5 linked regions of the Homo sapiens genome follow. The protein of the gene in region 3 interacts with the protein of the main gene of each other region in a pairwise test. Each region holds a gene or a part of one and is shown on either strand. Other genes may lie near its edges.

Region 1 (5,653 bases), on a different chromosome or scaffold from region 3:
TGGCAGAATTGTCTTTAGCCAGAAGGCCCCAGACATCCCGCCCCACTTTGCTGCTATGATCACATTTCTATCTGGAGCCATCGTTTTTACTTGTGGGTATTCTTGTCACACCTCCATGAGTATTTCTAGTACTGTATTTTCTATTCAGGTCCTGAATTCTGTGGAAAATTCTGTCCTTGCTGGGTTCAGGTTGGGTAGTGGTGGGGCTGAGAATTGGACCAGAATGGACTTAGCACTCAGCCTGACCTCACTCAGCCTCTGGCATCCCCAGGTGAGGTCCCAAGCCCCATTCATTTGTCAAGGGAGACTTATGGTACCATGCAGTTAAGGTGGGCTCTGCTGGGTGCTTATAGTCGGACTGAAGTCCAATTAACATGCTCCTCCCACTGCCATCCTCAGCCATAGCAGGCTGCACCCCTTCCTCCCATGACAACCCCAGCTCTGGAATCTAGCCATCAGTTCTCTGTGCCCGGAATCAGACTTTTTGGCCCCAATGTCCCGCTCGTCTCTTAAAGGGCCACACTTCAGCTTCATGTCTAGGGAGGGCGGGGGCAGGATCCAGGAGTGGAGGTTCTGGGAGGTGGGCCTGGAAAGGAGGCACACCAAGGCCAGGAACACATGCTGAGTCCCACTCCACACTTCACTCCACCTTCCCTTCATACTGCCTTGGCGTGCCTGGCATAGCATTCACCTGTCTTTATCAAAATCCTTCCCATCCTTCAAGGCCCTTCTCATGTTACCTCTTACAGCTGTTTCCCTGATTTCCTCGTTATAATTAGTCTGGCCCTCCATCCTCAGAACCCTGATAGCACTCTAACTGCCCTAATGACAGTGGCCACCTTCGCTCTATATCATTGTGTAGGTACATGCTTGCCCTGTTCACCAAAAGCTCTCAGAGATCAGTAGGAATCCTGCTCATTTTGGGGTGCCTAGCATAAGAAATTGGTTGGGGTCTAGTCTCAGCTCTAGCAACTAACTGGGTTGGCCTCCATGTGTCCCCCAACTCTGTGAGCCTCATGCCTCTAATTTATTTAATAAAATGTTAGATGAGAGCCGGGTGCGGTGGCTCACACCTATAATCCCAGCAACTCAGTAGGCTGAGGTAGGAGGATCGCTTGAGGCCAGGAACTCAAGTGTGCAGTGAGCTCTGATCACACCACTGCACTCCAGCCTGGGCAACAGAGCAAGACCCCATCTCTTTTTTTTTTTTTTGAGACAGTCTCTCACTCTGTTGCCAGGCTGGAGTGCAGTGGCACGATCTCGGCTCACTGCAACCTCCAACTCCCTGGTTCAAGTGATTATCCTGCCTCAGCCTCCCAAGTAGCTGGGATTACAGGCACGTGCCACCACACCCAGCTAATTTTTGCATTTTTAGTAGAGATGGGGTTTCACCATGTTGGCCAGGATGGTCTCGATCTCCTGACCTTGTGATCTGCCTGCCTTGGCCTCCCAAAGTGCTGGGATTACAGGTGTGAGCCACCACTCCCGGCCAACCCCATCTCTTAAAAAAGTTAGACTAGACCGTCTGTAAGGTGCTTTCCAGCTGTGAAATTCTATGGCTCTGTGTATGGAAGGAAAAGGGAGGCTGGGCTCTGACCTGTTCATTTAGCCCCGGTCTCTCATGTGGCCCTCTGCCGATGCAGCTCCCAGATACGACCAGGCCTGGGGAAGGAGATGGTCTGATGAGGCCAGCACTGGGGACTAAGGACGTGGAGTGAGCAGGCCAGCCTGTGGGCCAGGCCCAGGTTGAACCATGTTGCTTGCCTCAGTCTCTTCACAGAGCCCTCAGAGCCCCTCCCTGAGGAGTCCAAACCTGTGGAGATGCCCTTCCACCACTGCCACAGGGACCCCCTTCCGCCGCCGGGCCTTACCCCTGAGAGGCTGCATGCACGGAGGCAGCTATATGCTGCCTGTGCCGTTTGCTTTGTCTTCATGGCTGGGGAGGTGGTCGGTAAGTTGGGGAGCAGCCCTTAAACCCCATTCTCCAAATACCTGCCCAAGCCACTCTCCACCCAGAGTCCCAGGAATGTTCCTGGGTGCAGATGCAGAGATGGGGATGGCTGGGATAGGGGAGCTGGGTGCCCAGGACTCAGGAAGTAGGAGGGATAAGGGACAGCAACAAAGGGAATTCCAGCCGAGGTCCGGGGCCAGTAGGTCAGGGCTGACTTCTTTTAAAAACCCTATTTTCTTGTTATTAAAATAAATCATTGTAGAAAATAAAATACAGATGAATGAAAAAAATAACATAACAGTAGTTAATTATACCTGTAGTCCCATCACCTGAGAAAACCCCAAATCACATTTTTGGTGTATATCCCCCAATTTATTTTCCATGCCTATACACACTACATGATATTTTCTAAATGGAAGCAGACTCCATCATTTCACCCTGGCAGGCGGGTATCTGGCACACAGCCTGGCCATCATGACCGATGCAGCCCACTTGCTGGCGGATGTGGGCAGCATGATGGGCAGCCTCTTCTCCCTCTGGCTCTCCACCCGTCCAGCCACCCGCACCATGACCTTTGGCTGGCACCGTTCAGGTAAGGCCCCTGCATGGCCCAGTGACTCTCCAATCTTGCCAGAGGGCACCCGTCAGGGTCCCAAGCAGGTCTCTGACAGCTTGTCTCCCCCCCCACCCGCAGAGACTCTGGGGGCTTTGGCCTCTGTGGTCTCCCTCTGGATGGTCACTGGCATCCTCCTGTACCTGGCCTTCGTCCGCCTGCTGCACAGCGACTACCACATCGAGGGGGGTGCCATGCTGCTGACCGCCAGCATCGCAGTCTGTGCCAACCTGTTGTACGTCCCAGTATGGAGCAGGCACCTTGTGGGGCCCAGGGCGAGGGGTCTTCCTCCAGGATGGGAGAGCTGGCTCTCTCCTCCCCACCAGACACACAGACACGCACACACAGCTCTCCATGGGCTGCCCTGCGTGTGCCTGAGAAGGGTCTGGGATAGAGACCTAAAATTCAGTCAGCAGATCTCTGTCAAGGGCCTGCCATGGGCCAGCCACTCTGATGAGGGCTTTCATCAACATGATTGCATTTAAACCTCACAGCCACCCCATGAGGTAGGTAGCATTACCCCTAGTTTACCATTAATGCAGTCAATCCCAACAGGTGACTTGCCCAAGTCACATATCTATTTAAGTAACAGGGCCAGCTTCCGAATCCACATGTGTGGCACCAAGTCTGGTATTCTTTCCCCCAGGCTGCATTGTTTATCTCTCTTGCAAAATGCTGTTTTCTTCCAGGGGCTGGGAAAGGGCTACTGGGGAGGTGAGACATGGAGATGGGGGTATAGGAGGCCAGGAGCAGGGCCCTAGGCTGAGGTGCTCTGCTTACCCCTCAGAATGGCCTTTGTGCTGCACCAGGCTGGGCCCCCCCACAGCCACGGGTCTAGGGGAGCAGAGTATGCACCGCTGGAGGAGGGGCCTGAAGAGCCCCTGCCCCTGGGGAACACCAGCGTCCGGGCGGCATTTGTGCACGTGCTGGGGGACCTCCTGCAGAGCTTTGGGGTACTGGCTGCCTCCATCCTCATCTACTTCAAGGTACCATCATTGGAGACCTGCCCCAGCCTTCCTCCCCACAACCACATCCCAGCCCACTCCTTCCCAGGTCCCAAAGCTTCCTTCCTCCTCCCTCCAGCTCCTCCCTCCCACCTCCCAGGACTCTCCCAGACATGAGTCATGTTCCCTGTCCCCTCTTCAGGGTTTTGAGGGGCCTCTCAGGTCATGTTTGTTCAAGATACCCCTAGATCTTCCTCTGAAAGGTCCCTGGTTGTTGGGCTTAGGGGTCTCTTTCTCTGCAGCCTCAATACAAGGCAGCCGACCCCATCAGCACCTTCCTCTTCTCCATCTGTGCCCTTGGATCCACCGCTCCCACCCTCCGAGACGTTCTTCGAATCCTCATGGAAGGTGAGTCGGGCACCACAGCTCCCCATCCCTGTGGCCCTCTCTGACTTTACTCTCGCAGTGGGCCATCACTTTTTTCTTTGAAGATAGTACGGGAAGAAGGCTTGGCTCATGGGGTCTGCTGCTGGAACAAGGATTTGGGCATAGGGTGAATTGTAGGGGTCAAAAGGAGAGTGCATACAGGATAGGGGAGGTGGAATCCAGTGGTGGGGGTGCTGCTTCTGGGCAGGAGTAGCCCTAGCAGTAAGGCATGACTGGTGCTGGTTGCAGGTACCCCCCGCAATGTGGGGTTCGAACCTGTGCGGGATACGCTGTTGTCGGTGCCAGGAGTCCGGGCAACCCATGAGCTGCACCTGTGGGCCCTTACGCTCACTTACCATGTTGCCTCTGCACACCTGGCCATCGGTGAGTCACACTGGCCCCAGCTAGTTACTACCTGGAACATACCCCACCCCAAACATGGGACCATAGCTTGAGTTACTGGAATTGTTTCAGTCTTTTTTGATCTGTCTCTGTTTCTCTGTGTCTCTCTCTCTCACATAGACACATACACACACACACACATGCACGTGCGCTCGTGCATGTTGGAGACAAGGAGTCTCCATCCACTGGATGCAGTGTTCTGGGGGCAGTTTCACCCTCTTTGAAGTAGCACAGGGAACCAACAACCCTTTAAAAGATCATTAGTACCTACAGGTCTAGTGATGGGGCACAGTTAGGTAAATTACAGCACCTCCACCCTGAGGTATCACATAACTGTTAAAAATGATGCTTGTGAAGACTGTACAGCAACTATGAAAAATGTTTATGGTATAATGCTGAGAAAAAAGCTGAATATAAAATTGCATCTACATTATGATTCAACTATTAAAAATATATATGGTGAGTCATGAGCTGACAAAGGATTTTTGAGTTTCTTCCAGATGCAAGAAGCAATCAGAGTCATGCAATTTGTATGCCAAAAATATTATAATTTGTGGGATATTTGATGGAAACTCTAGAGGGACAATGAGACAGATATTTAACAACTGGATTGTCCTGGGAAATCGGGTGGTATGGCTGCTGAAATGTTGAGCTGTATGTTGACACTTAATGACAGGAGAGAATAGGAGACTGGAAAGAGTTTAGTGTGTTAGCATGGTTGATTGGGGTGAGTCTCTCCAACATTTGATTTGACACTTTTATGCTGTTCATACAATACAGAAAGAAAAGCAGGCTTCCATTCACGCCTGGCTTTAATGCTGTGCAGCCCCTTTCCCTGTCCTTATCTCAGTCCCTGCCTGTTCTTTCTCCCCCGGGATGGATGCCGCCTCTTATCACTCTCCCACAGACTCCACCGCTGACCCTGAAGCCGTCCTGGCTGAAGCCTCATCCCGGCTCTACTCCCGGTTTGGATTCTCCAGCTGCACCCTGCAGGTCGAGCAGTATCAGCCGGAGATGGCCCAGTGCCTGCGCTGCCAGGAACCCCCCCAAGCCTGAGCCATGGCCCTGCCCTCACCCCACTGCCAGGCCGAGGCTCAGCCCCAGACTCTCAGCATCTGCTGCCCTGATCACAGAGACGGGACCGAGCCAGGTCCATACCCCTTCCTCTCTCCCTCCTACCACCTGCCAGTTTCCCCAGCCTCAGCCCCAGCCCCAGCCCCAGTGGGCAAGACCAAAGTGTGGCGGGGAGTGGGGTGGGAGTCAGGGGAATAGATGTGACTAGTTCAGGGGCGGGGACTCCCAGGCCTCAGTGTGGCA
Region 2 (6,265 bases), on a different chromosome or scaffold from region 3:
TTAGAGTGCAAACTAAGCTACCTTATACTGCACTTATTACATCCACCTACCCAGTCAGCCAGCCATGAAGCAAAGATCCATGAGCATCCACCATGGTCAGGTCTATGTACTATAATTCCAGACATTAGTAGTGAAAAATATTTGAAAAGTGAAGAATTCTTAAATATTTTAAAGAAAAACCAAATATTTAAATTTTTCGGCTCACATATCTCTGAAGAATCTAATGTCACCTTGAGAATAAGGGATTTGAGAGCTAAATGTTTAAGACAGTATGTAAAGTAAAAAAGTAGAAAATGTTCCTAATTAGTATGTCCTAAGAGAAAGATTAGAAAACGGTCAAATATAGGCCCTTGGGTTTATAAGCTCAAAGTGAAACCAGTCTATTAATGAATAAAACATCCTTTCCTGATTAAATATTATAAAACTTATATTTTTTAAAAAATTTACTGATGATATAACCAAGGAAATGAGATTCTAGGTTGAATTCTTTTCTGAAGTCTGAGAAATTCATGTTGATTAAGTTAGTTTTTTCTCTTCTTCTTTCCATAGAAAAGTAAGGAAAATAAATGATGAATTATAAACTAATCCCTCCTCAAACTCCAAATTGACAGCAATAATGTTAATAATAGTCAATTTCATGTCAAGAAGAAAGCTTAATATAATTGAAATGGAAATGAGTATTTAAAATGTAGAAACCTTTTCATATGTTTCAGGCAAATTATTTTATTTTATTATGTATGTTTGTGCTCTTTGTGGGTACCACACTGTTTGTTTTAAATATCATTTTTTTCCTTAAGATAATTAGTGTTCATTTGAACTTACTGAATTAACATTTTTTATATTTAAATGAGATCAATAACATTTTTATTTCTTCTCTCTCTTTTGGCCTCAGTTAACCTTTGTTTAACGTATTATTATTTAATATTGAAAAAAATACCCAACTTTGCCAGGTAAGCAAGGGATTTTGTTGCATAAACAATACGTAGTTTTTCTGCTTACCTGACATAGCCAGACATTTTTTCAATATTAAATAATATATTGAGAGAGAGACTGAGGAGAGAGATGACAACTTGACATAAATGATATAAATGTGCCAGATTCTTGGCTGCACACTCTAATCTATAGGTACATTATTTGAGGTAGAAAGTCAAATGTTCTTCTTGCCTGTGAGAGTGGGAGGATTCTGAATTCATATAATAGCAAGGAGTTCAGTGTCACTGAAGTTATCACTGCAAATGGAAGAGTAGAGAAATAAGGGTTTTTAGGTGTCTAAACAAAGAGTTGGGATTTTTATTGTCTAGGAGATGAAGAACTATTGGTGGATTTTTGAGCAGTGATGGAACATGGTCATTTGCAAGGCAATATCACTCTTGGAACTCTGTGGAGATAAATTTGATCAGGCCAGACCTGCCTTTACAGGTCTTAATCTTATGTCAAATTTTTTTTGGGAAGATGCTCACAGGGTCACTCTGCAAAACTTTTCCAGCCAGATCCCCAATTTAAAGTTATTCCAATGAGAATATAGAGAATAGTCTAGGTCAGTTACATAAACCAGTTTGGACTTTGAAAAATGAAATGTCCTATTTTTATACATTGCTAATAAAAACAACAAGCTTATGACTGCTTCCTAAAAATTCTAGGCGACGTCTGTATTGTTTTAGTTTCTAGTACATTTATATTAACACTTTTTGTTTTAGAATAGTTCAAAGAAAGGGGCACCATTTCATTTTATGTTTTCCACCTGTAAAGTAATAAAGAACTGTCTACATTTCATACAGACTTTCATTTCATCTTTATGCGACTCCCATGAGTAGGTATTATTATCCTCATTTTAAAACTAAAGAAGCTGATTCCCAGGTTAAGCAACTTGGCTTTCATTACAGAAAGAGCTGGAATTTGAACCCAAGTCTCTCCAACATCAAAATCCTTTCTTTCTAATATATCACCCTTCTCCTTGATAGCACTTGTATAGGTGGAATGTTGTTTTTCCTCTGTACACCTTCTTTATAGAACATTTTCTTCATGTTACCTAAAGGCATGGTGCAAATTAAAAACCTGCGAATATCTGCATTAGGATAATTCAGCTTACCTAATTGTTTAGGTCATGTAGCCCCTCGTTTCCTCCATAATAATAGAATAAAGAGCCAGAGGAGTTCTGCTTTCCCATGACTTACATCACTCTGCAGACAATTGGCAGCCAGGAGACGGGCAGCTGCCGCAATCTTCAGATTTCTCTCTATTTAAAGTTCAAAGAGACGCTGGATAACAAAAGAAAGAGGTAAGCGTGGCCTGACCTAGCCACCCACCAACAGGAATAATGGCTGAAAAAGGTAAGATTTAAGGCATAGGATTCTCTTGGCAAAAAAAAAAAAAAGGCTTCTTGACTTTGGTTCATTTATGTTTCTTGGTGTTTCCCAGTCACTCTAAAAAATGTGATATCTATGCTAAATGACCATTAACCATATATGTTAGTGTGGCTGCAAAAATGCATTAATTATGTAATCTATGGATCAGGTCTATAGGTTATGAATAATTTTAAAATGATCAACAAAGGAAAAGAGCTTAATTTTGTTAATACTTATTTTGAAAGGTGAGTTAGAAATCAGTTCTCCTGATTTCAATTCTGAGCCAGAATTGAAGACAGTTAAGTTCTGTGTCAGACCTGCTAGTAAATGGCTATGTGAGTTTGCAGAAGTCCCTATACCTCTCTGAGTCTGTTTTCTGACAGTAAAATGAGAATATTGGGCTCAGGCATCTATTCCACACCTAAAATTTTTGTTCCACATCTAACTTTTTTCTGGTTTTTAAACATTTTTTTGTATTTATATTTTATAGTTATATAAAATAATTGATTCCAATTTGTCAAAAAGTTGAATATATACTGTATCTAAGAAATGGTTTTTAAATATTAAACAGGAATTTTTGCTTTGAATCTTGACAATGACCTTGTGAAATATGCATATCATCATCATCCCCATTTTATAGATAAGAAAATGGAGACACAGCAGTTTAGTAACTTGTTCATGATCGCTAAAGAGTGGTGGCACCAGGTGTTTAACCTGGACAGTCTTTTCCAGAGCACAGTGTCCTCAAGAACACTTCCAGCTGTAACTACTTTGATATGCTCAGAACTGGACAAGAGAGAAGCATTTTAGAATTACACTTCATGTTTAAGAGATGTTTTGTTCTTATTTGTGCTAGTAATGTAAGTGACATATGCAAAGTATGTTGTGCTCTTACGTATTTCTACTTCCAAACAATTCCACAGGTATTAGTAAAGTTGAAAACATTAGTGTTAAAAAAACAATGGAATGTATACTTTGGGTGTTAAAATGCACAGTTAGTGCTACTGGTACTATTTTACAAGGAAAGTAAATAATGAGATACTTTTAGGGCTTTGTGATATGTAAATTTTATTAAAATATGCATGTATAAAATATAAATGCACAATTAAAGGGTTAATATTAATTTTCAAATTCTTTGAAATTGGGAAAAATATAAAGCCACATACCTAGACAGTTCAAAAAAATTACTGCTATGTACTTCCATTGTAATGGTACCTTAATTCATAAAAAGGCTTTCGTCCAAATGAGAGTAAAGGGCAACTCATGTTGTTTGCTTTATCCTTAAGCAATACCACATGTCAAGTAAAGAGAAGAGTTTTCCATTTAGTGCTTAATGCCTTATACAAGGTCACAGTGAGATGGAGAAACAAGAAAAGCATGTTGAATTTTGTCAGTTAAGAGAGACTCTAGCATTCTTGGAAAAATTGATTTAAAGTATTAAAATTTATTTCAACTTCAGAAAGTTTGCTTTTATAAAAGTGTCTTCTAATTTTAAATGTGTCTCATCTCCTGATGATTTTATTTTAATAGCATTTTTAAAAATTTCACATTTTAAAGTGATGGAAATTGTAATAGGAGTATAATTGCTAAGAATATGCATTCTCTCTTTTAACTAATGGCATAAGATCTAATTATGCTTTGCAGTTAAGAATATATCTGAGTCCTTAACACAGGGACATTAATTCCATAGAATGTTTTTCTGCGCTCTTTCTAAATCTTTTTGTGTGATGTAGGTGTGGATTTCTGTGTGTATGCCTGTGTATGTTTGCTTGAAAGAACAAGAGTTACATGCAGTGCATACTTTAAAAAAGATACTTGTATAAATTGCTTTTTACAGGTAAGAGTACAAATAGGAGGCACAGAAGGAATCATATATAACAAACGCCATTTATGTGTGTGTTGGATTATTACTGCCCATTGATTCAGGTTCAGTGCTGGTTGTTATACTGAACAATTTTTAAACAATAGAAATTCTTTTCTGTAGTCAAGAATGGTTACATAATGTATGATACTTTCCTTTTCCCTGTGATATTTAAAATTACATTCAGCTATTGAGGCCAAGGACAGTTCTCAATACCTTTCCTTGTGTTATAATTATTTACTTTAGTGGGAATTGCCTCAGAGTTGTATTAGATTGTTTTTTATATAAATAGCTGCTGTATATGTTATTGCACAAATGCATGAATGTGTTCTGTATACACTAAACACACACGGTGGTTAGAGTTTACAAAGCTTTGCACATATGTTATGTCATTTGATGTTCAAAACTATTCCAGGAGGTAGAGAGCACAAGTTTCATTATTCATATTTTACCAGTAGGAAAGTTCAAGCCCAGAATTGCCAAAGGTCACATAACAGTAAAAGACCCATGGTTTGATTCAAAATACCCAGGGTTTATGACAGTCTCACGTATTCTCTGTAGAAAAGAAAAAATAATTATGTATGGGTATAACTAGAGAGTGTATGCTTTTTTCTTAATGTTACCAAATTCCTTTTATTCTCTTGACACAGAAAATTTAATATGAAAATGACCAATATAATCTGTTTTCTACGGTTTATTTTAAAGCGGGGTCTACATTTTCACACCTTCTGGTTCCTATTCTTCTCCTGATTGGCTGGATTGTGGGCTGCATCATAATGATTTATGTTGTCTTCTCTTAGAAAGGTAAGGGTTTTAATAATTGAATGTTTATTTATAGTCTAAATTACTCCAGAAACAATCTTTTCTATTTTACTAATGGAATGTTTTGTCTTTCAGGCAAGAAGATATCAGATTGACATCATTTAGAAGAATTAAGAAAACTATGAACATGACTGATTATTAAATGTCTCATGTTAAACAATGCAATGTTTGACATCACTTTACAAACTTGGATCATAAACTGGCACTTTGGTATGCATAAGAATTTCTTCAGGACAATAAGAAATTATGAGTGAATTTCTCTATATTCTGAGTGAGAAAAATGTTTAGCTGTGATGAAAAATGCATGTCATTAAAAAAAGTTTGATAAATTTAATCACATTACAAAAAATTATCCCCCCTTCCCTCTGGAAAAAACTATAGAGAAAGTGGGCTGAGGCTGTGCAAGGTGGCTCATGCCTGTAATCCCAGCACTTTGTGAGGATCCTTTGAGCCCAGAAATTGGAGACCTTCCTAGGCGACAGAGAGAGACCCCATCTCTACAAAAAAAAAAAAAAAAAAAAAAAAAAAGAAAGAAAATGGGCTAGAGATAAAAACAGACAATTCAGAGAACATATAATGTAAAAGTACACTTACTTAATCTCTTGTTCACAAAAAGAGAAATGTAATTAAAACTACACTGAGGAATTGTTGCTCACTTATCAGATGGGAAAAAAATAAAGATGTTTGACAACATATGAGTTGGTAAGACTGTGTGCAATTAGGCATTCTCATACATTGTCTTTGGGAATTCAAAATGGTACATTTTGCGGGATGTTTGGCAGTACATATCTATCAAAATTACATATATATTTAATTTTTGACTTAGCTATCCCTCTTCTAGGAATATGGCAATTTCCACAGGTACATGAGCAAAAATACAAAATGGCTCATATACAAGGCTATTTATTCTGGCATAATTTGTTTAGCAAAAACCTGGAAATAAGCCAAATATCTATTAATAGGGGATTAACTGAATAAACTGTGGTATGTCTACATAATGTAGTACTTACGCAGTTGTAAAAAGGAATGAAAAGGACTTTTAGATACTGATATGAAGAGATCTCCAGGACAAAAGTGTTAAGTGAAGAAGCCAGGTATAGGACAATGTATGCTACCTTTTATATGAGAGAAGAAGGGGCTATACCAATGTGTACATGTATTTGTTGAAATTAGAATATTGAAACTGAGGAGAAACAAATGGAGGCTAGATATCTCTGAATATGCCTTGTTTTATAGT
Region 3 (5,721 bases):
AGGAGCCTGGCCAACATGGTGAAACCCCATCTCTTCTAAAAATACAAAAATTAGCCGGCCGTGGTTGCCAGCGTCTGTAATCCCAGCTACTCTGGAGGCTGAGGCAGGAGAATCGCTTGAACCCGGGAGGCGGAGGTTGCAGTGAGTCGAGATCGTGCCACTGCACTCCAGCCTGGGTGACAGAGTGAGACTCCATCTAAAAAAAAAAAAAAAAATAAATAAATACTGTTTTGTTTGGTCATAATTATAACTTATTTAAACTTCCACTTTCGGTCAGCTCAACCCATGCCACCTTTTCTTTGTTCTTCACTTACAAGTTAATAAAAAACAAAACCTAGTTTCTGCGTATGCAGAAACTCTGAAACTAGAGCAGGTAGAATGCTGGAAACTCTTTTCTTTCAAAAAGGTTAATGTGAAAATTAAGTGTTTCTTAGCCTCTTCTAGCTAGTTTTTTTTTTTTTTCAGTTTTTTTTTAAAAGGTAAGCTGTTTCATTGAAGACATAAAAATCCAGAACAGAGTTTTTTAAATCTGGAGATAAGATGGAATCGAGGAGGAATCTTTGAACCTCCTCAGATGGATGCAAAATGTTTTAGCCTTGTTTCCCATGGAAACTATTCATGTTTCATCACTTTCAAGAACTTAAAAAAAGTTTAAGAATTCACTTGCATAGAGGTCTTTTTAAGTTAAATTTTTTTATTGATACAAAATATTTTTACACCTTTCTGGGAAACATGTGATATTTTGTTACATTCATAGAATGTGTAGTGATCAAATCAGGGTATTTGAGGTGCCCACCGCTTTGGGGATTTATGATTTCTATGTGTTTGGAACAATTGAAAACTCCAGCATAGAGGGCTTTGGTTGCCTTCATACTGGTCCCCACCTTTCCAAAAGAAGGTAGCCTTCAATATACATGATACAAAAGTGCCCTTGATGCAATTCTTCGAAACAGTGATTGCTGAGCTAATTATTCCAGCCGTAACATGCTTGCTGGCCCGCAGCTTCTTCATCTGGCCAATGGGAATATAGATACCAGCCACTTTGGGGATCGATATGAGAGAACAAAAATGAGATTGTGTACATGTGCACACTTCCATAGGTGACACCTAGCAGAGGGTGGCAGATGATACAGGTAATGACCCACCTCACATGGTGCCCACTTGCTTAGTGACTAATCTGGCTGTCGGGGTTTCCCTCCCATAGAGCTTTTGCAGGAGCCACTGTCCATGACTTCTTCAACTGGCTGTCCGTGTTGGTGCTCTTGCCCGTGGAGGTGGCCACCCATTACCTCGAGATCATAACCCAGCTTATAGTGGAGAGCTTCCACTTCAAGAATGGAGAAGATGCCCCAGATCTTCTGAAAGTCATCACTAAGCCCTTCACAAAGCTCATTGTCCAGGTAACTTAGCTCCTTCAGAGAGAGAAGGAGACTAACTTCCTACCCACAACATCCCCTACCTGAGCTGACAGATATAGAGTGTCTACAACACTATTCTGGGCCTGGCATGGTGGCTCACCCTTGTTTTCCCAGCACTTTGGGAGGCCGAGGCAGGTGGATTGCTTGAGGTCAGGAATCTGAGACCAGCCTGGCCAACATGGCATAACCCTGTCTATACTAAAATGCAAAACATTAGCTGGGCATGGTGGCGTGCACCTGTAGTCCCAGCTATGTGGGGGCTGAGAAAGGAGGATCGCTTGAACCCCGGGAGGTCAAGGCTGCAGTGAGCTGAGAATTGTGCCATTGCACTCCAGCCTGGGTGACAAAGTGAGACTGTTTTTAAAAAATAAATAGATGAATAAACACTACTCTGTAGCTGCCTCTGGAAAAGGCCAAGGGAGGCAGAACTTTTGGGCCACCTGATAGAGTGACTGACCTTGATGGTTACTTTGACTTCCATAACATGCCACCTTTATTGGGGTGGAGGTGCTTCTTAAGACTGGACACTTGAGACCACTTTGTTCCCACTGCTGTCCTCAACACCAGTGGACTTGATAAAGTATGATCTACCCTTTCCTGCCTAGAGTCATCTCAGCCCCTTCTCCCTGGGTCCTTGCTAGGACCTTGTGTTTTCACTCTTACTGGTTTTCTTGGCCATTCAGTCATCCAGAAAATATCTACTGTCTGCTCCCTAGATATCAGTGCCTCTGCAGATAGAGTGAGTCCCACTTTGCCTCTCTGGGGGCTCACAGTCACATTTATCTCCTTAGAGCCCCTCTCACTTCAACCCCCTGGGTTTGTGTCCTAAATCGGTTCTGAGGATATGCTGATGGTTTCCTGTCTACTGTTTCCACAGCTGGATAAAAAAGTTATCAGCCAAATTGCAATGAACGATGAAAAAGCGAAAAACAAGAGTCTTGTCAAGATTTGGTGCAAAACTTTTACCAACAAGGTACGTTTCCAAGAATATTCCCGGGGCGGGGAGTGAACCTTTGCATCTGAACATGAAACTAAATCTTGCCTTCAAGGAAGGTAAATAGAAAGTCAGGGGAAAGAAATATTGGGAGTCCCTGAAAAATCAAAAGTGACCAGTGAATGCCTTTAGAAAACAAGTCCTTGAATGAATGCCAAATGCAGGTAAACAGTAGGACAGACAGACTCCCTTTTGCCCCATCCCAGGGATACATTATTTCTGGTTTGTTATTTCCATGCCTCTTGGAGAAGGCTTAGCTCTGCCTGCCGCTCTGTTCTCATTTTTGGAGAGACTTGTGGAAGTAGTCCAGCACGCCCTACGGGTGTTGGCAGCAAGTGTCCTCTCTCTTACTTTCCAGACTTTTCCAGAGTATTCCCCCTGCTCGGGCCCAGAGCATTCATGCCCTCTGTCAGGAACCTACCCAGGCTGCTTTGCACCTGGGTTGTGGCTTGCCCTTGCTTCTGGGGTGTACATGTATTTTTTTTGTGGGGTGCTAAAGACTGGAGACTAGAATAAACAAAGTAGATGTTTTTAAATGATGAAGGCTGATTTCAGTTGTCCTCAGTTATTCTAAGATTTCTAATAAAGGTGAGAAATAAGTCTTCAAGAGAAAAGAACTGTTCTGTTGGGGCCATACTGCATGCACCATGGGTGGTGTCTGCGCCTGTTCATTCCCACCCCCGCCATTGCCTCCCATTCCCCACTAAAAGCCAGTGTTGTGGGCATTTGTCATGTTTGTCATCCAGACCCAGATTAACGTCACTGTTCCCTCGACTGCTAACTGCACCTCCCCTTCCCTCTGTTGGACGGATGGCATCCAAAACTGGACCATGAAGAATGTGACCTACAAGGAGAACATCGCCAAATGTGAGTGGAGCTCAGTGGATTGGCCACTATGACAGGTGTTGTCTGGGGGTGACCTATTTATCCGTGTGAAGTCCCAGTAAGTGAAGGAAAGGACAGTAGGAGTCACCAAGCACCTGCCCTACATCAAGCAGTGAGCAACATGCTTTCACAGCAGAGGAAACTATGGCTTAGGAACTGAGGTGACAGGCCTGAGGTCCCACAGCAAGGGCAGAACTGGAACTTGAAGTCCATTTCCTTTGCCAGCTCCACACCACCTCAGAAAAGCTCAACAGATTCTAGAGGATTCCCTCTACATGCTTTGTTCAGATTCCTTTAGTCAATAACTCTAGGGGCCAGGCATGGTGTCTCAAGGCTATAATCCCAGCACTTTGGGGAGGCCGAGATGGGCTGGTCACTTGAAGCCAGGAGTTTGAGACCAGCCTGGCCAACATGGTGAAACCCTGTTTCTACTAAAAATAATACAAAAAAAGTAGGCATGGTGGCTCAAGCCTATAATTCCAGCCAAGATTGCACCACTACACTCCAGCCTGGGCAACAGGGAGATAGTCTGTCTCAAAATAAAATAACTTTAGGGAGACGACAACCCGATTTGAAGGAAGATGTGGGACCCACATAGAACAGATGTATTCACTCAATTAGTCCCTACTGTACAGCAGGCCCCATTTCAGGGCACTGGGGCTGTAGCTCTTGAACGGGCAGTGAGCTTGCATGATGCTCTGATTATTAAGAAGCTGTAATGTTTTTTCCAACCCAGCCATCCTTCGTTATTCTAATTACTCCTTACATATACTTTTGTATATCTCTGCTTCTCTCTTCTCACCCTCCCACCACATTAATTCTGAGCACTATATCTTAATACTCTAGGTATGATTACCCCAAAGAATCAAGTTAACTTACCACCTCCCACATTCTAGGCACTATACATTCATTCATATAACCATGTTTTGCTGGGATTATCTGGGGGATGCAGAAGGGGCTTTATAATTAGCAATGCCCCTTACTTTGACTTGCCCATCGAATCCCTCAAAGCATACTTATCATTAGTAAAAAAAAAAAATTAGACCATCGACAGCATGGTCTTTAGAGACAGAACTGGGCTGAGTCTACCCCTGAACAGTTGTGTGATTTTTAAAGCCATCACTTCATCTTCCAGCCTCATGCGATCCCACTGATTATGACATAGTTTCAGTGGTGCCCCTTGCTGCGAAGGAGGCTGAGAAGGGCTGTCTTGATTTGGGGCTGCCATCTGTTAAACTAACAACCAGGAATCTGTTTGTAGGAAAGACAGGATCTGGGGGAATAAATAACAATCTGTAGCCGTGGTGGCTCCATGCCCTCCTGACAAGATTCTTTGTGGTCTTTCAGGCCAGCATATCTTTGTGAATTTCCACCTCCCGGATCTTGCTGTGGGCACCATCTTGCTCATACTCTCCCTGCTGGTCCTCTGTGGTTGCCTGATCATGATTGTCAAGATCCTGGGCTCTGTGCTCAAGGGGCAGGTCGCCACTGTCATCAAGAAGACCATCAACACTGGTAGGTACACTGCCCTCACTTGTAGGCCTCACATGTAGTCACTGCATGGGGTGTGGGGGTCCTTTAGATTCCCATCTAGCAATGGCCTCTGCATGGAGTTTCTCTCTCAGATTGGATCAGCACCAGAAGTGAGGATGTCATTCACCTGGAAATGTTCTTGGCATCCTGGGTGGGGTCTAGGGAGCAGGCCCAAGTTTCCATTGCATCTTGGCAAGGTCCTGAGCAGGAGTTCATATCTAGAGAGCTGTGAGTCAGGCCTTCCTTCTTAGCGGGTTTCCTGTATGCTCAGAGCTTTACTGGCTCTGTCAAGACCCCTTAGAAAAAGGACCCCAGGTGTCTGCCCTCGCCCCCACCTCCCTTCACTCTTGTAAAGGAAATGTGATGCATAAATACATCAGCATCTAGAGGTGGCCAATGAGACTGCTGGCTAAGAGGATTTCCTGCCAAGTAGGGTGTCCTGGCCAATGAGAGCTCGCTAAGCCAATGACATCATCACTTCATGAAAGCTCAGTGAAATATAGCCAAGAAAATTCGCCCCCCACCCCAGATTGTCTTGGGGAACAGAGCAACTCTGGGTGCTTCTGGGAAATGCAGGGCCTGATCCGGTGCTAGTTGGGTGGAGGACTCAGTTGGCAGGCATGTTCCAAGCTGCTACAGTTTCTTGATGCTCTTTAAGGCAGAAATGAAGGTTGAAGGTCAAATGTGGGTGCTGACAGGAGACCAGGGCAGGCGAGGAAGCATGCTCTCAGCACTTTCTGGAAGGAGAGTGGTTACTTGGGTGGGTTCACTCTTTCTAACCTGACCTCCAGGGAATCTGTGTTTTTGTTTTCATAACACTTACCTGTATCCTTGGTTTTTCCATCTGAATATGCGGAGCAAAAGACAATGGGGAATGAAACTGGATTCTAA
Region 4 (5,721 bases), on a different chromosome or scaffold from region 3:
TGCATTATAGATGTACACAGTTTCAAGGTATATGTGTAATTTAATTCATTCATATAAGCCATTTACTTTGTATCATTTGTGAGTAACAAAGCACTCAGATAGGAGGCATGAATAAATGTTATTTTTTTAATTGTACATAAACGTGAATGCAAACGGAGGTACATTTAATAAAATAGACCATCCAAAAATCTTATTATGCTAATATGTGCATATATATGTATGCACACATATCATGGTTATTGATTTCTTAAGCTAAAATTAAAATTGGTACCATGACCATAAGCATATGTTATTTGATCACTAAGACAAGAAGACCTTAGAAGGAGAGAAATTAAAAGTCAGCCAAGAACTAAGCACTCTCCAGATAGATGGGCAAGGCCATGAGTCATCTTTGTGCAGAGAATTGAGCCCTGATAAAAATCAAGGAAACAAATGGTGAAAGCACAACTTGTTAAGACAAGTGGATGCATCATTCACACTGATCCAGGTGAAACCCCAAATAACAGGATTTCTTTATCTGAGATGGTTTGATGACCTAACAAGTTAAGAAAACCAAACCAAAACAAACAAGAAACGCTCAATTCCATTTTGGAGACAATATTGAATGCCTCATTTAGGGAAGCAAGTCCATGCAGCAAAAAAGAAATCAGATGTGCACTTCTTTCCCAGCTTTGCCAGTTTTATGATAAGTTCTTTAGTCTGATCTCAGTTTCTTTACCTGTTTAAAGAGAATAATCATACCTAATAGGGTGGTTGTACAAAGTAAAGGAGATTACATCTCATGTTTATAAGCACCACACTCAGAAGAGCTGTCTGCTTCTCTGCCTCGTAGGTTGCAAACCTGAGAATTTCACATTACATTAGCAGCTCTGACATAGTCTCATTTATACCCTATAAGCTCTGATTCATACAATAGTACGATGAGAATGCCATGCTATATCTAGAATTGCTGAGAAGACTAGATGACATTGTGTGCTGAAGGAACTTTGTGAAATACAAAGAACTACTTAAACAAGTAGTCAGCAGATGACAGCCGGTGTGCCAAATCCAGCCCACCACCTGGATTTTTGTTTGTTTGTTTGTTTTATGACTCAAAAGCTAAGAATGGTTTTCACATTTTTAAATAGTTGAAAAAATCAAAAGATGAATATTTCATGATGTGAAAATTACATCTAATTCAAATTTCAGTGTCTATAAATAAAGTTTTATTGGAACACATCCACACTCGTTTACATATTGTCTATGGCTGCTTTTGCACTACAATGGCGGAGTTGAGTAGGTGTGATCGAGACCATATGGGAATATTTACTATCTGGTTCTTTACAGAAAAGGTTTCCCTACTCCTGACTTAAATTAAATATAGTGACAAAAAGCATAAAGATTTTGGAGGTTTTTTTTGAGATTAAAAAAAATTCATAAGTTATTGGCGAAGTGCCTGCCATATAGTAATGGCTCAATAAACAGATGTTGCTGTTTATATTCCTTCATTAGATTATTAATTCAACAAATAGTTATTGAGTGCATACTCTGCCAGATACTGCTCCAAGAACCACAGAATACAGCAATGAACATAATTGGACAAAATTCCTTTGCTCATTGAATAGACAATAAACAGACAAATAAAAATAAGTAGAGTATATTATTTGGCTGGGAGAAAAAATAAAGGATGAAAGAATAGAGAGTTTGAGGGTAGAGGTTGCAATTTTTAGATACAGTGGCCAGGGAAGACATCACTGGAAAGGTGACATTTGAGTGAAAACCCGAAGGACACAAGGGAGCCCAAGGGGATGCTGTGGGGGTGGTGAGGAGTATTGTTCTGGGCAGGGGAATAATACAAAAGCCTGGAGGCAGAGAGAGCTTAGAGTGTTCGAGGAACACCAAGGAGTTGATGGGCTGGAGTGGCGGGGAACGATGGGGAGAATAACAGGAGATTAAATCAGAAAAGTGCGGGGTAGGGCCTTGAAGAACCATCTAGGGACTCTGGCTTGTACTCTGAGTGGGAGAGGAAGCAAGTTTTGAGCAGAATAGTGGCATGGCCTGACTCACATTTAATCCAGATCCATCCGACTGCTCCAGTGCAAACACCCTGTAGCACAGACTGATTAAAATTTTATAAGTTGATTTGCAACATCAATTACAGCTTAATGGTGTTAAATTGGGGGAATATTGCATATTCTCTCCATGGAAATTAATAAACCATTTGATGGGTACACAGCACCTTCCTTACATTATTTAAGACAATGTCAGAATGATGAAACTGCTTCTAATTTATGGACAAACAATATGATATCTCAGAATCCCACAGGGTAGTTCTAACCATTTAATTTCTGCGGATTCTCACAACTGCTTCAGCTTTTCTAACAGAATCTTTGGACTAACATGGCCTCTTTTTTTGATACAAATATTTTTGTTTGGACAGTGATTGAGACTGACCTGGACAGACCTAGAGAATGCCTCTTTGCTGTAAGATTGTTCCTCAATCTTTCTTTCATTACTACTTCCCTCTACCAAGGAACCTTTGTAGACCTGTTTTTTTTTTCCTAATTTCCACCACAGGAACATTTTTTATTGTGCTAAAATATACATAACATAATATTTGTCATTTTAGCTATTTGCAAGTATACTATTTAATGTCCTTAAATGTATTTACAACATTGTGTAACCATCACCAGTATCTATACCCAAAATTTTCTCATCATCCCCCCACATAAACTCTGTTCCCGTTAAACAATAACTCCCTATTCTCCACTCCCCCGAGTCCCTGGTAACTGATAGATACCATGCTTTCTGTCTCTGTGAAATTGCCTATTCTAGGTACCTCATATAAGTGGAATCATATACAATATGTGACCTGTGTCTGGCTTATTTTGCTTAGCATAATGTTTTCAAGGTCCATCCATGTTGTAGCATGTATCAACATTTTACTCCTCTTTATGGCTGAGTAATATTCCATTGCATGCATATGCCACATTTGATTGTTTGTTCACCTACTGATGTGTTTCTATATACATATATGTACATCTGTGTGTGTGTATATATGTGTGTGTGTATATGTGTGTGTGTGTGTATCTGTGCTTTCTACATAAAAAGTGCAAAATTGTTTTACCACCAACCCCAGAATGAATTTTCGCCTGCAAGAAGAGGGGGGATCTCACCCTCATTGATAACGCAGGTTCTCAGGTATAGATCCCCAGGTTTCCTGCCAAAAATGAGGTACATGTGTAGGTAATGTTTATTATTATTATTATTATTATTATTATTATTATTATTATTTTGAGACCAAGTCTCACTTTGTCACCCAGGCTGGAGTGCAGTGGTGTGATCTCAGCTCACTGCAACCTCTGCCTCCCAGGGTCAAGTGATGCTTGTGCCTCAGCCTCCCGAGTAGCTGGGATTACAGGCGCGCACCACCACGCCCAGCTAATTTTTGTATTTTTAATAGAGATGGGGTTTCGCCATGTTGGCCAGGCTGGTCTTGAACTCCTGACCTCAGGTGACCCACCCTCCTCAGCCTCCGAAAGTGCTGAGATTACAGATGTGAGCCACTGCACCCTGTCAGTAATATTTATATGTAGATAAACCACTTAGAGTGAAGCCAAGGATAAGGAAAATGACCTCAGAACACATAAGTATGAAAAGTCATCTTTATTCCCAATGCAATAGAGTTATCTGTATTTTATTTAGTCTTCACAATTGCCAACAGTTTATAAAGGAATGAACTCAAGAATGTTTGGAAAACAGCTGTAAGCAGTCATGTCAGGACCAAGCCAATGGAGCCGATATTCTAACTAAACTTTTGAAAGCAGTGGCAATTCATGATGTTACTATTCCCACTGAGTCAAAAATATTTCTGGAACACAAAGAGAATGATTAAGTAAGAATGTAAAATAGGAAAAAAAATGAAATCAATGTCACATCTGAAGATCAGAGGAGTGGGAAGCTGGTACCTGCTAGGGTATGCATGGTTGTGTCAGCATATGGCATGAGTGTTGGTGTCTAGTTGGAAGGCCATATGGCAAGGTATCTGGCACAGACTCACCTAGGTCTTATTCTCCTGTGGTTGCCCAATGCCATATTGTCTCATTCTGTAAAGAAGAGATTTAAAAGATTGTTGAACAGTGTTAATAAAGTCAGCCATTTCAAATACATGACCAGATTGTTTAACAGTGTTAATAAAGTCAGCCATTTCAAATACCCTTCAAATATCATCAAAGACAAGTAGAGACTGAGAAACTGCCAGAGTATGAGACTGCGGAGATGTGAAGACTGAAGACCACATGGGGTCCTGGATTGGATCCTGGAACAGAGAAAGGACATTCACAGGAATACTGGGAAATTCTGAATAAAGCCTATAATTTAGTACTGTCATATCAATGTTAATTTTTTAATTTTAGTCAATTGTCCCAGGATTATACAAGATGTTAACATGAGGGGAAGCTGAGTGTGTTGTGCTTCTTCTGTGAGTCTAAAATTATTTCAGAATAAAAAGTAAATGAAAATAAACAGCAACCAAGTTTCCAGTAGCTCCTGAGTATCAGAAGCGAACTTGAGACTGGCAAATGCTGAAGCATGGGGAGAGTGAGGGAGTGTATATTTGCATCATAGCAGCTTTGATGCCTGCCATAAGAGTGACTCCTGTCCTTGTCTCCTTTCCGATTCTTTTGCAGGGTGTGCTGGGTGCATCATGTAACTGGCATGTGGGTGTACCCTTTCCTGGAACACATTGGCCCAGGAGCCAGAATCATCTTCTTTGGGTCTACAACCATCTTAATGAACTTCCTGTACCTGCTGGGAGAAGTTCTGAACAACTATATCTGGGATACACAGAAAAGTAAGTATTGTCTGAGGGAACATAAAACAAGAGAATTACTGCCGGCAACAGTCTATGCAGAGACTGAGGGAAAATTCCACTGTAGCCTCTTCTTTTAGCCTTCACACAGGATCTCCTATAAAGAGCTCCATTTTTAAAACTACAATATGAATTTAAGAGCTGCTGACAGTTACCTGAAAGTTTTACTAGTCACTTGGTCTTGTTAGCTAGTAAAACCTCCAAATCTAAAGAGGAAAGAGGCATGTCTATAAAATTTTATAGGGAAAAATGTAGTGTTAGCAAAAAATATATATTAGGGAAATTTGTCCTCATTAACAACACAATGCTGCCTTAGTTAGCTAAAGGGACCTCAAATTAAATAGATACATTATTAAATGTAACCAATCTCCTTTAAAGTCACCCAGATCTCCACTTTCTATGTGGGTGCAGTCACCTGGGAGAGGTCTTACTACCATTCTGCTAGAGCTCTATCTAAGCAGTGTGTGATGCTCCGGCCACCTTGACTCACCAGTGGCTGTCACGGAAAGTCTGAAAGTGGCAAAGAGCTACAAGCAGTAAAAGATAATATTTCGTGGCTGGAAAAACTCTTTTAACCTGTGATTTGATTTCTCTTTTGTTTCCATTTATGGCAGAGCCTCCATCTTGGCAAGGCACGTAATCTTATCCAAGCTGTGCAAAACCTGTCCAAAGTGTATGTACAATAACATAAAAATTGAAAGGTGGAAAAAGCGCCAGCACAGACATGTAGTGATTGAGTCCTGCATGAAAATACATCCAAAGGCAAGATGGTTTGGAGATTTTAGGAAGCCCTGGCTCTTTCCTCTGACACAATCACAGCATTCTAGACATCCCCAGTAAATGGACTCTGTGACACAGACATTGAGCACCCT
Region 5 (6,272 bases), on a different chromosome or scaffold from region 3:
CTGAGAAGCTCTGAGAGGGAAAAAAAAGCCTGTGTGCCCGTGCTTGGAGATGGAGGCAGTGTTTACTGCCCTGTGGATTCATTAGCACTCCAAGGCCGGCCTGCTCTCGCCTCCTCCTGGTGAGCACCCCTGGGACCCGAGCAGCATCCTCAGGAGCCAGTGCCGGAGCCATCTGGCATCCAGCAGTGCTCTAGAGCGTGCCTCCTGCGGTCTCAGCTGCCCCCCAGCCCGATGCACTCAAGGTTGCACCTGGGCGCTGTGCAGGGTCATCCCCCCCTCTCTGGGCTTCATTTCTCATTTGTGAAATGTAGTGTGTTGGCGTCCAGTAAGGGTCCTTCCTCTGTGACCTCCTGCGACTCTAATAAGAAGGATGACATACACCATCTAACTCATGCATCTTGCTTACTTTGGGGAGAAGAGACGCCTCTAACTGTGCCAAGCACAGACCCTGGCACACTGTAGGTCCTCAGTAAACCACTGAGAATGATGGGATGGACAGACCGGTAGATGGGTAGGATCAACTGGCTTTTAGGAGGAACTACCAAGTTTAGTTACTACATCTTCACAAAGAACACTCCCCAGTCTCTTGACAAGTCTTCTCTAGATCCCACTCTAGCCCTGCAGTGGGGACTGGAAAAGAGGGTATTCATTCCCATTGCCACTCCACACACACACACACACACACACACACACACACACACACACACACACACACACATATATTTTCTCTCTCTCTCTTACATGCACAGAGGCCACTTGGCGTAACCTGGGCTTTCTAGAGTCCCAGTCTCAGGAAGTGTTGTGGGTGGTAGCCTGGGGCTCATCTAGGCAAGCCCCACTCACTCCGCCCCCACCACTGCCTGCACACTTTCAGTGATGCAGCACTCCTGACCTCCAGGGCAGTTCTTTCCTTCCCTGAGATGAGCCTCTTCCAGGCCTCTGTTATAGAGGCTTCACAGGCAGTCAGATGTCCACTGGGCTGTCCCTGTCCTCATCACTGGCCCTTTCTGGATCCATTGTATGATGGCCTTGAAGGACTTCTGATTAGGAACTCAATTCAATCCAACAGACACCATTCAACACCTCCCATATGCCAAGCACCACTCAACCCAGGCTATGGGATAGAGGTGAGGCCAAGCCTGGCTCTGACCCCTGAAAGCCTGATCACATGAGCATAGAACAGTACCCAGAATGGCCCAAGGTGGGGTTGGCAGGTCAGAGGAACCTAGCTGGTACTGAACCAGGAGAGGTTCCCCGCCCCCAGTGCTGGGTGAGAGCTGCAGGGCATCTGCCTGTTTAGAGACAGAGTGAGCCTGTGCACAAATAAGCTCATGGGCAGCAGTTCTTCAGCTCTTCCTGAGGCCAGCTGGGAGCCACAAGTCACCAGCCAGGAGTAAGAGGAGCTGACCTCTGAAGCAAGAGGAGACATGAGCTTGCTGAGCTCAGCCCCGAAACTCTGGATCCTGGGCACTCAAGTTTCCAGGCATCTGCACCTCTTCCACCAGGCAGTTCAAATGCTTTATGTTTTCAGTCTCCTTCTACACCTTTTTACATCAAACCAACCCAGAATTGCTTCACCTACATCAAGTTAGGCCTCACATCTTAAATTCAAAAATATCAGATCTGGGGGCAGGCGAGCTTAAGAAGCATCTAGTCAGCCCTTTATTTCACTGAGAAGAGACAGAAGCCCAGATAGTAAGAGAGGCATCCATGTACACACAGCTAGTTAGAGGCAGAGCCAGTGCTCAGCACATAACAGGTACCCAATAGATGCTTCTTGAGTTGATGGAACTGACATGAATCAGCCAACCTCTGGTTTTCTGTCTTTTTTTCACAAGGCAGGTTTACTCCAATAATTCCAGGTCTTGGGACAAGAGTACAAACGTAAGCTCCCTACCCACATCTTGCCTCCTCTGTTCCCACCCTCAGCACCATTCTGCACCATGAGAAGCTTCACACACATACACGTGAACAACCCAGCCTTTGTGTCCATGTTCTGGCTACATCTCCAGAGCACAGCCACTTACTGGCCTCTCTTGAATCCAAGGACACAGGAAAAAGGCCTGCACAGACACTACAGATGGACTTGAGGTAGTCTGGGGAGGAATTTCTGTAGTCCCAGTCCCCAATCATGATCTAAAAGGAGGAAAGGCATGTGGACTTTAGACGGCCTCGTCCCCTTGGCCTCAAGGACTCTTTGCCCTGTGGTAGATGTGCAGCTCCTATAAAGAGTGGGACCCTGGGCTCTAAGTTCCTAAAGAAAGTTTTGCTCAAAGCTAAATCTTTTTATCACAGGTGCATAGATAATAGAGCTAGAGTGGATTGGATCTATTATCTAAGACCAACCCCCTCATTTTGTAAATATAAAAACTGAGAGCCAGAAAGGGAAACAGACTTGCCAAGTTTACAAGGCTACTTAGCTATATAGAGCCAGTTCGTAGCACACAGCAGGTGGTCAATAAATGTTTATGTATTCAGATCAAATTGGATTAATTCACTAAACATATCTAGGAACAGAGCATAGCTGTACCCCCTGCATTCCCCCAACTCCTAGATTAAAACTTTCCCCAATGGACCTCATGGCCTCCTTCCTTCAGTTCCAACTCACTCTAAATGTCAGAGATTGCAGGGACATAGATGATATTACAGCTCTTCATTTAATGTGGACAACTAAGACCCAAAGATGGAACATAACTTTCTCAGGGTCACCCAGGGAGTTAGTGGTATTGCTAGGATTAAAAGCAAGAACTCTCTGACCCAGCCGGCTGTCTTTGTCTTTTTCCCCATCTGAGCTGACACCAGAATAAGCCCGCGACTGGGCTCTGTCTCTCCTTGGAAAGTACCCCACAGCTGTGACCCAGGGGCTGTCTGCAAGGTCCCTCCCCACTGAACCTCTCACCTGCCTGAGGCGTGCTGCTCCAGGTACTGCTTCCAGCCAGGGGCCAGCTCACTGGGCTTGAGGTTGGGGTCTATGATGAGCTCCCAGCTGTCCGCTGGCTTTGCCACCTCCATCTTCTCATAGAAGACTTTCTTCCACTCACAAGTGGTCAAGCTGGTACACATGGTCCTGCTGGCAGAGGTGGCAGTTCGAGCTCAGCCCTGGTGAGAACACAGAAAGAGCACGGATAGGTACGGGACAATTCAGTGTCTACGGTCAGAATCCTCATCGGCAGGACTGGGAGTAAACAGGACCCAGCTCCCTCCTCTGTTACCCTGGAACCTGTTACCATGGTAGCCAGGCAGGGCACCAAGAGTGAGGGCTGGGGAGAAGGGAAGCCCCAAGGGGGAGTTTCAGGGCCCTGAGTTAGGCTTCAGAGGCAGCGCTGGGTAGGCCTGAGAGGAGCAAGCACAGTGGGAGGCCCAACCTCAGACCACACTCATCTGGATTTCCAGAGGTCTCCAGGAGGCAAGGACTATTTGGTGGCCCTGCTTCACCCAACTGCTCTTCTAGCATTCTCCACATCATGTGCTATGGTAAGTACGACACCCTAGGAAGTCAAGGAGAAATGAGGGACAGGGAAAGGCAGAGCCTGCTGCTTCCACACCCCCTGATATGCTGTGACCATCACTTACCATGTGCCTAGCACAAACCGCTTGACCTGTGTGCTGGCCAAAGCAGATCAGATCAGGAAACTGAAGTTTATGCAACCCCTAAGTGGCTCATCCAAGATTCAGATCTAGGCCTTCTGAAACCGAGCTCATTTGTTTATTTATTTTAGTACTATTGTGCTCCTAACAGGGAATTGAGTGAGAAGTAACATCTCTTTGCCCAGGGCAATCTTAGACCAGTTGGTGAGCTAGAATGTAATTTCATATGCCATGCAAAGCACAGTAATAACATTTCAGATTCATAGCGTCATAGAACTGTTAGAGCCCATATTCAGTTCCTGGTCCCAAGCCAGGCTAAGGTGGCTGCTGGGGTAATGAGTTTGTTCTGTGCTGCAGGCTCCTGCTGCCTCCATTACTGCTGAGCTGGAGCAAGAGAGCATCCGTAGCTCTGTGATGCCCAATTCAAATTCTTTAGAAACCAGAGGGGAATCTGACTTCAAATTTGGTAATCCAAGTGAAGACACGGTTACCTGAAGGGAGGCTGCCTTGAGCATGGAAAAGACCAGGCATATGGCTGCTTACCCTAGCTTTGGTCCAACTTCCAACTGTAATCATCTTACGATTCTTTAACCCGGAAGTCTGGATCCCTAGACACGCAGAGTTCCAACAGTAAAGAGCTTCAAGAAGTGAAACAGGTTGCTAAGAACCGGAAGCTCTTGGTGTTGAGTTGCCAAGTGGTTTTCAGGAAGTGTGAAGTCAGGGACAATGTCACTGGATTCTCTCTTGAAATGAAAAGTGTTACTCTAGCGGCTTTGTGCTAAAGACCTCAGAAAGGACACAATTGTCTTTGAACCATTGACTGACAGCTCTAGAAGAGCTCTTTTATTTTTAAAAATCTGGTTTATTTCTTGAACTCTTCATTTCTTAACCAAAATTTATTGACATTGAATTAAAACAACTGAGGCCTGGAAATGGAAAATTACTGGCCCAGGCTCTCAGGACTGGGTAGCTCAAACCTCACTGGGGATTCCCTTAGAAGCCAGTTACCAGACCAGGTGAGACAGAGGGATCCATGAATGGCCAGGAACTGAACGAAGCTGAGATGAGCTTATGGCCTGGCCTAGACCCTCGTGCCAGGAAAGAACCTCTGAGAAATAGTATACCCTTGTTCCCAGAACAAATGGCAATAAAGGAAAAACAGAAAGAGGATGAGAATTGTCAGGGTTTACCTGTATTTTCTTTTTTCCTCAAATAATGCAATCCCCTTAGGCCTAGTATCAGGTTTAATTTAGCATAGCAGCTTCTAAGCAGAGACCAATAGAATTCATCTTTCTGTGTAACAGCACTGTTTTCACTTTTCATACAATCAGTGAGCACAATTACTACTTCAATTTTCCGCGAATGACACTATCTTATTCCAGAACCCACGATTTAAGAGCTCACAAATGTATATTGTGTACAGCTGTGGCCACATCACACTCTGGCAGCTTCATTATACATATTTTGTCTAGGCAATACTTTTTCAAATAAAGAAATTGTTATTTCTTTATAAAATAAAATACTGAGCACCTGTATTCTGCAAACAAATCAGCAAGGGGGAGGGGATGGATAAAAGAATCACTTTTCCCCTTCAATTTGGAATGCAAGTTAATGAAGAGCTTTGTAAAATATTTATTATTCAATTTTACTTATTAGAGTAATGTAAGAAATGCCAGTGTGGAGCTTAAAATGACAAAGTAATGAAGAGTTGAAAAGGTGTGTACATCAAAATCACCTGGAGAGTTCTGAAAACTGTATACACCTCTGCTTCAGAGATTTCAATACATGTTCTTGAGGAGACAAATTTGCTCTCCACCTACTCCAGTCCTGGGAAGAATCCCTTCTATTGCCAGCCATTGTTACTGATGGGATATGTTGTCCCACAGGCTACTGGAGGCCAAAAATGAAAAACAAAAAAAGAAGATTGAGTAAAATGAGCTAGTGGTTTATAATATTTCTTTACCAGGAAATAGATCCAGGACAAATGCAAGGTGTGTCCTATCTTCTCCTGTGTCTCCGCAATTCAAAGAACCGTAGACGATGCTATAGGGCGAATCCAAGATCCCCTGGGGAGTATTTTCAAGAGATATTAGGAAGGCCTCTCCATCCCCAGGATGTAGCACTTAGCGACAGCATGGTCCAAGCTCCCACTCTTTGGGTGGGAGCTGACCTCTGAATCTCAGGGGAGGCCACACAGAGCAGTCCATGGCTCTCTAATAGTGGCACATAGTGGAATCTTCCCAGGAAGATTTTACGCTGCCCTTTTATTAATTGGCAGCAACCAGAGCAACTGCAGGCAAGTGACATTCTGTTTCTGCTGGTGTCCAAGGGCCCAAATTCTGTGCACCATGCTTCCCAGCACCCCAAAGGCTCTGGAATCTGTATTAAGAGTGACTATATCTACTTATCCTTTTTTCCGGGTCTTATTATCCTAGATAGAGATTTGGTGACGAATCTATTATGGGATGTAAATACATAAAAAGACAGATAGAAATAGGGTGTGCTCCATGCAAGGGAGAAAAAAAAAAGATAGGGGTTGAGTTAGGAAGGAAGAATATAGAGGGTCTGGGGACACTTTCAGCAGGTACAGCCTATGCTGCTTCTGTCCAAGAGGCTGAGGGCCTTCATCAGAGTTCCTTAGCTATACTCAGAGAACCTGCTAGTTTCTGTTGAGCTGAGGCTCA

What was found.
Region 1: the proteins of SLC34A2 (region 3) and SLC30A3 interact in binary tests that used the Homo sapiens proteins (3 or more experiments, as listed by UniProt).
Region 2: the proteins of SLC34A2 (region 3) and STRIT1 interact in binary tests that used the Homo sapiens proteins (3 or more experiments, as listed by UniProt).
Region 4: the proteins of SLC34A2 (region 3) and AIG1 interact in binary tests that used the Homo sapiens proteins (3 or more experiments, as listed by UniProt).
Region 5: the proteins of SLC34A2 (region 3) and RTP2 interact in binary tests that used the Homo sapiens proteins (3 or more experiments, as listed by UniProt).

The regions. Positions count from the first base shown.
Region 1 is NC_000002.12:27,255,051-27,260,703, reverse strand, and holds part of SLC30A3 (probable proton-coupled zinc antiporter SLC30A3), read left to right. Parts: intron 1-1,769; coding exon 1,770-1,951; intron 1,952-2,373; coding exon of another isoform or gene 2,374-2,396; coding exon 2,397-2,543; intron 2,544-2,645; coding exon 2,646-2,799; intron 2,800-3,351; coding exon 3,352-3,550; intron 3,551-3,810; coding exon 3,811-3,916; intron 3,917-4,183; coding exon 4,184-4,318; intron 4,319-5,243; coding exon 5,244-5,392; coding exon of another isoform or gene 5,393-5,618; 3' UTR 5,619-5,653. UniProt on the Homo sapiens protein: Probable proton-coupled zinc ion antiporter mediating the import of zinc from cytoplasm into synaptic vesicles and participating to cellular zinc ion homeostasis in the brain.
Region 2 is NC_000003.12:155,289,685-155,295,949, reverse strand, and holds STRIT1 (sarcoplasmic/endoplasmic reticulum calcium ATPase regulator DWORF), read left to right. Parts: upstream 1-2,266; 5' UTR 2,267-2,317; coding exon 2,318-2,330; intron 2,331-4,911; coding exon 4,912-5,006; 3' UTR 5,007-5,010; intron 5,011-5,103; 3' UTR 5,104-5,723; downstream 5,724-6,265.
Region 3 is NC_000004.12:25,668,443-25,674,163, forward strand, and holds part of SLC34A2 (sodium-dependent phosphate transport protein 2B), read left to right. Parts: intron 1-1,204; coding exon 1,205-1,400; intron 1,401-2,295; coding exon 2,296-2,391; intron 2,392-3,158; coding exon 3,159-3,279; intron 3,280-4,644; coding exon 4,645-4,812; intron 4,813-5,721. UniProt on the Homo sapiens protein: Involved in actively transporting phosphate into cells via Na(+) cotransport.
Region 4 is NC_000006.12:143,328,615-143,334,335, forward strand, and holds part of AIG1 (androgen-induced gene 1 protein), read left to right. Parts: intron 1-4,667; coding exon 4,668-4,831; intron 4,832-5,463; coding exon of another isoform or gene 5,464-5,481; exon of another isoform or gene 5,482-5,721. UniProt on the Homo sapiens protein: Hydrolyzes bioactive fatty-acid esters of hydroxy-fatty acids (FAHFAs), but not other major classes of lipids. Show a preference for FAHFAs with branching distal from the carboxylate head group of the lipids.
Region 5 is NC_000003.12:187,699,066-187,705,337, forward strand, and holds the start of RTP2 (receptor-transporting protein 2), read right to left. Parts: upstream 3,493-6,272; 5' UTR 3,064-3,492; coding exon 2,900-3,063; intron 1-2,899. UniProt on the Homo sapiens protein: Specifically promotes functional cell surface expression of olfactory receptors, but not of other GPCRs.